Regions from separate parts of the Homo sapiens genome. Here region 2 is linked to region 1. A link means that fine-mapping ties the variant in region 1 to the expression of a gene that starts in the linked region. Tissue or cell type: whole blood. Region 1 holds a variant in brackets; the other region holds the start of a gene. All regions are shown on one strand. Distances are between the middles of the regions.

Region 1 (5,148 bases):
TCTCTCAGCATTTGCTTGTCTATAAAGTATTTTATTTCTCCTTCACTTACAAGGCTAAGTTTGGCTGGATATGAAATTCTGGTTGAAAATTCTTTTCTTTAAGAATGTTGAATATTGGCCCCCACTCTCTTCTGGCTTGTAGGGTTTCTGCCGAGAGATCCGCTGTTAGTCTGATGGGCTTTCCTTTGAGGGTAACCCGACCTTTCTCTCTGGCTGCCCTTAACATTTTTTCCTTCATTTCAACTTTGGTGAATCTGACAATTATGTGTCTTGGAGTTGCTCTTCTCGAGGAGTATCTTTGTGGCGTTCTCTGTATTTCCTGAATCTGAACGTTGGCCTGCCTTGCTAGATTGGGGAAGTTCTCCTGGATAATATCCCGCAGAGTGTTTTCCAACTTGGTTCCATTCTCCACATCACTTTCAGGTACACCAATCAGACGTAGATTTGGTCTTTTCACATAGTCCCATATTTCTTGGAGGCTTTGCTCATTTCTTTTTATTCTTTTTTCTCTAAACTTCCCTTCTCGCTTCATTTCATTCATTTCATCTTCCATTGCTGATACCCTTTCTTCCAGTTGATCGCATCGGCTCCTGAGGCTTCTGCATTCTTCACGTAGTTCTCGAGCCTTGGTTTTCAGCTCCATCAGCTCCTTTAAGCACTTCTCTGTATTGGTTATTCTAGTTATACATTCTTCTAAATTTTTTTCAAAGTTTTCAACTTCTTTGCCTTTGGTTTGAATGTCCTCCCGTAGCTCAGAGTAATTTGATCGTCTGAAGCCTTCTTCTCTCAGCTCGTCAAAATCATTCTCCATCCAGCTTTGTTCCGTTGCTGGTGAGGAACTGCGTTCCTTTGGAGGAGGAGAGGCGCTCTGCGTTTTAGAGTTTCCAGTTTTTCTGTTCTGTTTTTTCCCCATCTTTGTGGTTTTATCTACTTTTGGTCTTTGATGATGGTGATGTACAGATAGGTTTTTGGCGTAGATGTCCTTTCTGGTTGTTAGTTTTCCTTCTAACAGACAGGACCCTCAGCTGCAGGTCTGTTGGAATACCCTGCCGTGTGAGGTGTCAGTATGCCTCTGCTTGGGGGTGCCTCCCAGTTAGGCTGCTCGGGGGTCAGGGGTCAGGGACCCACTTGAGGAGGCAGTCTGCCCATTCTCAGATCTCCAGCTGCGTGCTGGGAGAACCACTGCTCTCTTCAAAGCTGTCAGACAGGGACACTTAAGTCTGCAGAGGTTACTGCTGTCTTTTTGTTTGTCTGTGCCCTGCCCCTAGAGGTGCAGCCTACAGAGGCAGGCAGGCCTCCTTGAGCTGTGGTGGGCTCCACCCAGTTCGAGCTTCCCGGCTGCTTTGTTTACCTAAACAAGCCTGGGCAATGGCGGGCGCCCCTCCCCCAGCCTCTTTGCCGCCTTGCAGTTTGATCTCAGACTGCTGTGCTAGCAATCAGCGAGATTCCGTGGGTGTAGGACCCTCTGAGCCAGGTGTGGGATATAGTCTCATGGTGCGCCGTTTTTTAAGCCGGTCTGAAAAGCGCAATATTCGGGTGGGAGTGACCCGATTTTCCAGGTGCATCCGTCACCCCTTTCTTTGACTCGGAAAGGGAACTCCCTGACCCCTTGCGCTTCCCAGGTGAGGCAATGCCTTGCCCTGCTTTGGCTCGCGCACGGTGCGCGCACACACTGGCCTGAGCCCACTGTCTGGCACTCCCTAGTGAGATGAACCCGGTACCTCAGATGGAAATGCAGAAATCACCCGTCTTCTGCGTCGCTCACGCTGGGAGCTGTAGACCGGAGCTGTTCCTACTCGGCCATCTTGGCTCCTCCTTCCGGCACTGGCTTTCATTACCACCAATCCCTCTGCACACAGCAAGCTGGCACCATACCTTGGCCTGAAGTGGCTTCAGTGGACTCTCTTTGCTTCTGTGTCTGTTGTTGTCTGTAGATTTGGCCCTGATGTCCGGGTGGGTGGGCCCTTAGAGCTGAGTGATGCCCACACCCACTGAAGCCCTCTGCGGATGGCTGTGTGCCTCATCCCTGCCCCTCCCAGGGATCTTTCCTTTTTCCTTCTTCTCTTCCTTCCCTTCTCCCTGATCTGCTCCTTCTCTCTCACTTGCAGTGGAAGTTAGCATGTGTTTTCCTGTGGACATCTTCTCACTGAGAGGAAAAGAACAGCCTGTGTTATGGGCTGAGTCGCGTCTCCCAACCCCAAATCTCAGATGTCGGAGTCCTAACCCCAGGACCTCAGAATGGAACTGTATTTGGAGACAGGGTCTTCAAAGGGGTGATTAAGTTAAATGAGGCAGTTAAGGACGCCCCTAGTGCAGTCTAACTGGTGTCCTCATAAGAAAAGGAAATTGGGACACAAAAAGAGACCCTACCATGTGAGTGGAGAGAGGGCCGGCCCCGCAAGGGCAGTAGGAAGGCAGCCGCTTGCAAGCCAAGGAGAGAGGCCTCAGAAGAAAGCTACCTGCCAACACTTTCATTTTGGAACTTCCAGCCTCTAGAACTGAGAGGAAGTGAATTCTTGATATCTCAGCCAACTCGTCTGTGGTCTTTTGTTATGGCAGCCTGAGCTGACTGTTCCAGCCTCTCAGAAGTGCCATAGGGAGAATAATTCCTACCCCATTTCCTGTCTCCCACCGTCTCCCACCTCTA[C/T]CTCCACCTCCAGAATAAACATCTTTCTCTGTTTTATCCTGGAAATAGAACATATCCAGTGTCTCCAAAGTGGCCTGGCTGCAGACGTGTGGCAGAGACTGAGAAAGTTGCACATCTGATCGAAGCATTGATGGAGATATCTGGTGATCTGTGCTGAGATGGCACGAACACCTCCTCGGCCACTCGCTCCCATAGGCTTTATTCTGTTTTTAAAAACACCTTCATATGTATTACTCATTGTAACCTCACCACAGTGGAAAAACAGGAAGCATTCAAAGAAATTAAATTTTATAGATGAAGAAACCAAAGTTCAAGGAAGTTAAATTGTTGGTCTGGCACCATATGACTTCCTGTTTTTAGAGTTTATGTCAGTTACTGTGGTAGAATTAGTGTCTTCCCCAACATCATTCCAGCTTTCACTCTCTGGGCAGGTGGCACACTTTTGAAATATGGCATATCTGTTTGACTTGCTTTAACTAGTGAAATGTGTGGGGAGTGACACGTGTCACTCAGGGAGAAAGCTTCTAGGGCCAGTGTGCCATTCCCAAGACTCTCTTCCCAGCCTCCCATAGCCAGATCCCTGAGCAGCTGAGATGGGCAGAGCTCCCCTGCCAATCCCCAAGGGGCATGGCACCTGAGTGAGAAATTAACTTGTATAAAACCCCTGGGGTGTGAGCATGGTTGTCATCATGCACGACCTAACTTAACCTGACCAATACAGTTAAGATGCTATTGGCTGTGGGGAAAAGAAAATCCATCAGAAAGTGGCTCAACAATAAGGACATATATTATCTCCTGCAGAAAAAAGTCTGAAAACAGAGTAATTGCAAGTTTGGACAATTCTGAAGCTCAATGATGTCCTTGAGGACTCAGATGTTTTTCCACCTGCCATGGCCAGCACTTCATTTCCTCCCCTTAGAGGGACAAAATAGCGTCAGCAGCTCCAGCCATCACATCCTCACACAGAAATATCCAAGGGTCAGAGAGAGAGAGAGAGAGAGAGAGAGAGCTTCCCTTTCACGTGTCCCTTGCTAAGAATGAGCACAGCCTTTCCAGAAGTCTCCTTTCTGCAGTGGAGTTTCCTTCAAGCCTCCTTGACCAGATCTGTGTCACATGCCCACTCAAGTATCCAAGGGAACAAAATCAACATTGATTTGCTGGACGGATTGAGCTCCTTTCCCTGGGGCAGATGAGGGACCCATTCTCCCTGAAGCACAAGGTCACCTAATTCTGTTGGCAAGAAAGGGGAGCAGCACAGTTGTGAAGTCCCCAGTAGTGTTTGCTGTAAGGTTGATTCGAGAACCTGAGTCCCTTACACCAAAAACTCGCCTCAAGAGTTAGAAGAGGAAGGTCCATGCTCACCCCTGACACTTTATGAATAAGCACAGAAAGATTCAGAGCTTCAAGGGGAGGAGCTGAGACTCACAAGCTCCTCAGCATTGAACACAGTGCTAGGCAGACGGTTCAGCCTCAGGGACAACCTTCAGGCCCATCTTCAGGCAGGGAAGTATTAATATTTTTCACATGTGCAGATGCAGACACCAAGACCTCCAGAGGTCGTGACTCCTGGGTTCTCAGCCAGTTAGTGGTGCAGGAGACCCGGGAACCAGGACTGCTGCTTCCCAGTACAATATCCATTTCTTACCCAGCTCCTGTTTGCACAACAGCGCTTGCTGATTGATTCATTAAAGTCCTGTTTGCTACTTTCACTTTGGGAAATAAACTGGCAGCTGAAATTATAACTAGATTTAAGAGAAGGATGACAGACCCAGATTGGAGCGTATGAAGGGAAACTTAATACATTCACATTGGGAACACTCAGAATTTGATATCAGGAAAAACGTCCCCATCTTTCCATTAAACACTTCCCTGGGACTTCCAGCAGAGACAGAAATTTGGCCTGGGTAAAGCCAAGAAGCTGACCCAGTGTGGCAATTCTGACCCCCTTAATGGTGAGGATACAGGCCAGGGAATTTCTGATTTCAGAATAGTTTTCCCCAAAACATTAAATTGTTTTGAAGGAAGAGAGATGTGCCTTTTTTTGTGTGGGAGTAACTGTGTGATTGTATGTGTGTATATTGTGTATATGTGAGTTTATGTGCATGTATTTGTGAGTAGGTGCATGGTGTATATGCCTGCATGTGTGTATTTGTCTGTATATGTGTGTGTATGCATTTGTGCTTCCATTCTCCTGCTGAGGGTGGAGTGAGGAGGAATGGTATATGTGACCTTTCTGGTTATCTTTCTAATACTGCAAAGTCCACCTTTATATAAGGTGAAGGTTTCCATTTCCCTTGTCCTCAGAAATCCCCAAACACACTTGATTTATGGGATGCTCTTCTGCCTAAGTTCCCATGAATCAGACCAGTGCAGGAAACACTGAGGCGTCTCCCAGGAGGACAGCTGCTCAGTGCTGCCCAGCATCCCATTGTCTCCCCCTCAGTTACCGCTCGACTGCCCAGTTGGCTGCAGGAGGTTAGGCCTTACTTCCCCCAAATAGT
Region 2 (5,148 bases), 40 kb after region 1:
CCATTTATTGCATATGAAAAACAGATAAATATCTGTCATTCCATATGATTCAACCTAATGGATCCTCCTAGGATGGAGTCAGGAGGCCACACTGCACATGAGTGCTTCAATTATACCACTCGGTGGTCCTAAGCCTGGTGCACATTAGAGCTCTTTCTGAAATTTTTATTAAAACCAGAGCCTCAGGTTTGGGATGGGAAACTGGCATTCCTCTACTGCAAACCTCTGGATTGGAACCCCTGGATTAAACCAGAATTAAATCAGTCTATAGATTGAGGCAGAGAGTCTGGATTCAAATTCTGGTGTAGCTCTTTATAACCACACAATTTAAGGCAAGTTGCAAGTTATGAGTGTTGAGCAATGTATGCAAATGTTTAGCACAGTGTCTGGCATTAACAGTAAATCCTGGATAGGAATTAATGCTTGCACAAGCCATTACTCTGTGTGGAAGTTCAGAGAAGTAAGTCAACCAAGGTCACACAGAAAGTTAATGAAAGAGTTGAATTTGGGACCCAAGTCTCTCTGGTCTCTAGCCAGAGGTGAAGTGACTACACTTGACATCCACTAAGTGCTTCCTTTAAGAACAGGGATCCTCAATAATTAGCCCATGACATTTTCTAATAAGTCCCCTCCCCACACCCATGAGAATCAAAGATGAGCTGACCAGGCAGAGGCAGAGGGAGAGCAGGGAGCTCTGCCAGGCTAAGTGAGCGGGTTCCTTTGCCTAGGGGACTGCCCTCCAGTGGGCAAATCCCCTGTGTCCTCAATTATCTGGTCCTGTCTACCCCCCAGACTCTAGCTGGAGCCATCACTTCCTCATTTCCAATTTTCCTCTTTAAATTTTTCTGTCCTGGCTTCTGCTGCTTGTCCTCTGGCGGAACCAGTGACTTCCTGAATGTTGAAATTGTGGGCGCCACGGGGGACCTCTGCTTTTCAGGGCACTGCTAGGAGCTCACTTTCCTGAGTTTCATCCCCTTTCACTTTCTGACATACCACGGGCCAAAGAAAGTGACTTCGCCTGGCACAGCTTCACTTCCTGCCACCTGTCTTCCTCACCTCTTACATTTCAAATAGGCCAAAAGTCTACGGCTCCCCTGCTCCAGGCTGTCCCACCTCTGAGAGGCTGCACCTGCCCTCCTTCCTCCCTGGAGGGCCTTTGCCTCATCTTGATCTGGATCAATCCCCCATTATCCTTTTAAGCCCAGCTCTGGTATCTGATATCTCTTGATTCAGATGATAAAGCTATTTGTCATATTTCTGCCCTGTCTCCCCTGCCTCCCGGCACTTCTGTCTTTTCAGGGACATCAACCTTTGCCGCACTTCACAGCAATTTTCTGGAATGTAGTTGTAGCCGCAACCATCTTGCATGGTAGACTGTGAATATCTTTCATGAAAAAAGGCCATTTCTTCATCTCCTCGGTGCCCAGCAGGCTCACAATGTCTCTAATGATAATAACAACAACATGACCATAGTGTTTATTACCTAATACTTCCATCCTAGCCACCTTATATGATTTAATTCATTTAAGGCTCACGAAATTCATATCTTCCTTATTTATACAAACAGAAGAGTGAGATGCTCAAAGCTCAAGTGATTTGCCTACTGCCAGACAGCCCCTATGTGGAAGAGGTGGAATTTGAAGCCAGGCATTCTAGCTCTTAGTGTCTGTGTCTTAACCACCATGCTATACAGCATCCCTGGTAGAGATGCCTGACGGGAGGGAGAGAGGGGAGAAGCTACTTTCCTTAAGGAGCTCAGATCTCACTGGGGCCTGGACAAGGACACCTGTAACACATGTACACATGTGCACACATGTGTACACACACAGAGAGAGAACATGGGAAAACTACAAGAAGAAATACTAAGTGCTAAAATGTGTGGTTCAGAGCAAGGCTTCTCAAACTGTAATGTGTATATAAATCACCTGGGGATCTAGTTAAACTGTAGATTTGGATTTGATCTGATGGGGTGGGACCAGAGACTCATTGTTAGAACAAGTGAACTTGCATTTCTAACAAGTTCTCAGGTGATACTAATACTGCTGGTCCATGGACCACACTTTGAGCAGCAAGGATGAACTCTAAAGGTTGAGGCAGGTCAGAGAAGGGAGATTTCACTGTGGGCTGGAGAGGTCCTGGGACAGAGAGCTGAGTCTGGGCCCATGGCAGGGCTTGGTTGGCCCTCTCTGGAGCCATCCAGCTTTTGGGTCTCAGGGACCTGGGAGTGACGGGTGCATTCAGAGGCCCGTAACTTGTGTCCCAAAGCCTCCTCGATCCCCCTTAACAAGCAGCAGCACTGTGTGGGAGATCCACATGTGAATAGCCCGTGTTTGAGAAATGTCCAATCCTGATCATGTCAGGAAACATCCTGCAAATTCTGAAATCAGAGCCAAAGGGAAGTGCTGCGAGGTTTACAACCAGCTGCAGTGGTTCGATGGGAAGGATCTTTCTCCAAGTGGTTCCTCTTGAGGGGAGCATTTCTGCTGGCTCCAGGACTTTGGCCATCTATAAAGCTTGGCAATGAGAAATAAGAAAATTCTCAAGGAGGACGAGCTCTTGAGTGAGACCCAACAAGCTGCTTTTCACCAAATTGCAATGGAGCCTTTCGAAATCAATGGTAAAGTACGATTCCCCAATAATGGAAATGACCAGAAATGTAGTCTTTCTGCTAGCGAGATACGAAAATAGACAAGTCAATAGAAAGTCTAGGTTTGGCTTATTGCTGCATTTTGCACGTAATCATCACTAATACTGTCTGGAGTGCTTCAATTTGGAATTTCTGGAATGCTAATAATAGATGCTGTATTTTTAGCATATAGTCAGGTTTTTCTTAGCTTCACTATTGTTTTAATCATATTTAAATATTTTCCCTTGAAAAAATGCCAATGCTTATTAAATGTCCCCTTTTTTTAATGAATGTCTTATTCTGACACACAGGTTGGGTGATACAATGAAAACGCAAAACAGGGGCACTGAAAGGGGACCACAAAACTGAAGCCAAGCATGACAGTTTTCAAAACACAGCTTCTTTAAAATTCTTTAAGGGGATTTCTGTTATAACTGATGTGCTGGTCAGGAAACATATTCTGTATTTCATGTTGACTGAAATATGTTCATAGCTTCATAATTAGTTTGTCTTAGGTTAAACTCAGGTCTGTAATATTCAGTCAACTCTGTTGTCTTTATTTTCTCACTCAGCATTCAACAGGTGATGCATTTTTAAAATCTTCTAGAATTTGTAGCATTTGAAGTCATGGGTGGGCTTGCATTCCACAAATGAGCTCTGATTTCCTAGTCTAGAACGTTCTCTTGGGATCATCTTCCAAGTTGATCAGTCATTTCCACTCCCAGGCTTTGCTGGAAGTTGTCTATGCAGGAAAATTGGTGGCTTTATCTCCTGGCCAGAGTGTCCTTCTCATCCCACACCTGTCTGCCCAGGTCCCTGCCTGGAATTTTCAGCGCACAAAGATGAAGCGTCTGGGGCTCTGCCTCTAGGAATTTACAGTGTAATAACAGAGAAAGGTGTGAGTGCTAATGGCTATAATAATCATTGGCTATTTAGAACTTCTCAGAATGCAACATTCTGGATACATGACTGTTTAAGAGACTGAAGATGTTCAAGCAAAGTCAGCTGATCAAGCATACTCAGCACCTATTTCCAGCAGGGCACTGCACTCAGCACTGAGGAAACAGGCTTGAATAAACATAGCCTCTGGCCTCTGGCTTCTGGCACGAGGGGACAGGGGACAGGGTAAGCTGCCCATGAACTGACAATTTCCATGTTGTGACTGAGACTTCCACAGGACATGATGGACAGATCTAACCAGGTGTAGAGCCCTGGAGGGCAGAGCTGACACCTCTTCCAAAGTTTAAAGGATAAAGGGAGTCCGTTAGAGAAAGAAGTTAGTGCCTGGGGCGGGGTGGGCGCCACATGTTTGTATTGTATTCACAAGAAATATTCAGAGAAATATAAATACTTCCATACTGTTTGGCCAAAATTGGGACGGAAAGACCAGTGGGGACTGAGGCTGGAACCAAAAAATTTGACTTCATCCTGAGGTCAGTGGGGAAGCAGGAAGGGGCCGATGTGGGGCTGAAAGGCACTAATGTGCATGTGAGGTTGCTCTTTGTCCTACATAGGGATGGCTGGAGAGAGAAGCTGAGGACAGAGAGGAACTTGGCAGCAAGAGATGATGAGGGGCAGTGGATGGAAGGCAGGAAAATAAAGGAATGCTCTGGAGAAACACCGGAAATCAGATCAATTGGACTGCAATGGCAGGACAGGGCTGGGGAGGAAGACGCAGGAGTTAATAGTGAACCCTAGATTTCTGACCTGGGTTGTGTGTGTCACCAATTAAAAATGTAACTAAGCCAGTGCAGGAGGATTCCTTGAGCCCAGGAATTTGAGACCAACCTGGGCAACATAGTGAGACCCTATCTCCACCAATAAATAAATAAATAAAATGTTTAAAGTATCTCACCAAAAAACCAAAACTACTCCAATTTGGATGAAAGAAACATTTTCTTATATGCATTCACAACATCCTGCCTTCTAATACAAAGATTGTGGAACATATGAAACTTTCTAGAAGAGTGCCATTATGCAGGTAATCACTGTGAGGCTCTGGTAACACAGTGACCCCTCAGGGCCGGCTCTGCACATTACTTATTTTTTGTCTGCTGAAGATTTATTTATTTAGGCCATATATAGTTTTATTTTCTTTTGAAAATACATTATCTTAAAATTCCCACATATGGTTCATGAAAAACAGCACTGAAAAATATTTCTAATGTCATTTTCCTCATTTATTTTTCTCTATTGTTGGTATTGAAATATAAAATGCTGTTTTTCCCTGATTATAAAGTATTAAACTAGTTTTTTTTTATTATTATTACCCAAGGATACTGGACTAGGAAAGTTTTCAACACATGCTGAAGAAAATTTTAGAAGTGAGTTTGGGAAACTTTTGGAATATAACCTTCATTTTTTCTAAAATTAATCTTAAAAAAAGGATGAGGAGTGTAAATTTCACACTGTACCCTCTAGAAGCACAGTGCAACTTGCATCCCTCTTTCCTGCCATCACCTCCAGCCTCCCTCATTAGAACAAGCCTCCTTCATTCCATTATCTGCACTAGAATTAAGGTA

Evidence for each region. PIP is the estimated chance that this variant, and not a neighbour inherited with it, causes the effect.
Region 2: it holds the start of MARCO, and the variant in region 1 is fine-mapped to the expression of MARCO in whole blood (TOPMed, PIP above 0.99).

The regions. Positions count from the first base shown.
Region 1 is chr2:118,899,974-118,905,121 of GRCh38, forward strand. No RefSeq gene overlaps it. Among named protein-coding and RNA genes, the nearest start is that of MARCO, 40 kb to the right of the region's middle. The variant C/T (reference allele first, on the strand shown) is at 2,648.
Region 2 is chr2:118,939,781-118,944,928 of GRCh38, forward strand. It overlaps MARCO (macrophage receptor with collagenous structure), which reads left to right and starts at 2,414. Exons shown (of 17, transcript NM_006770.4): 1 at 2,414-2,617. The coding sequence starts at 2,521.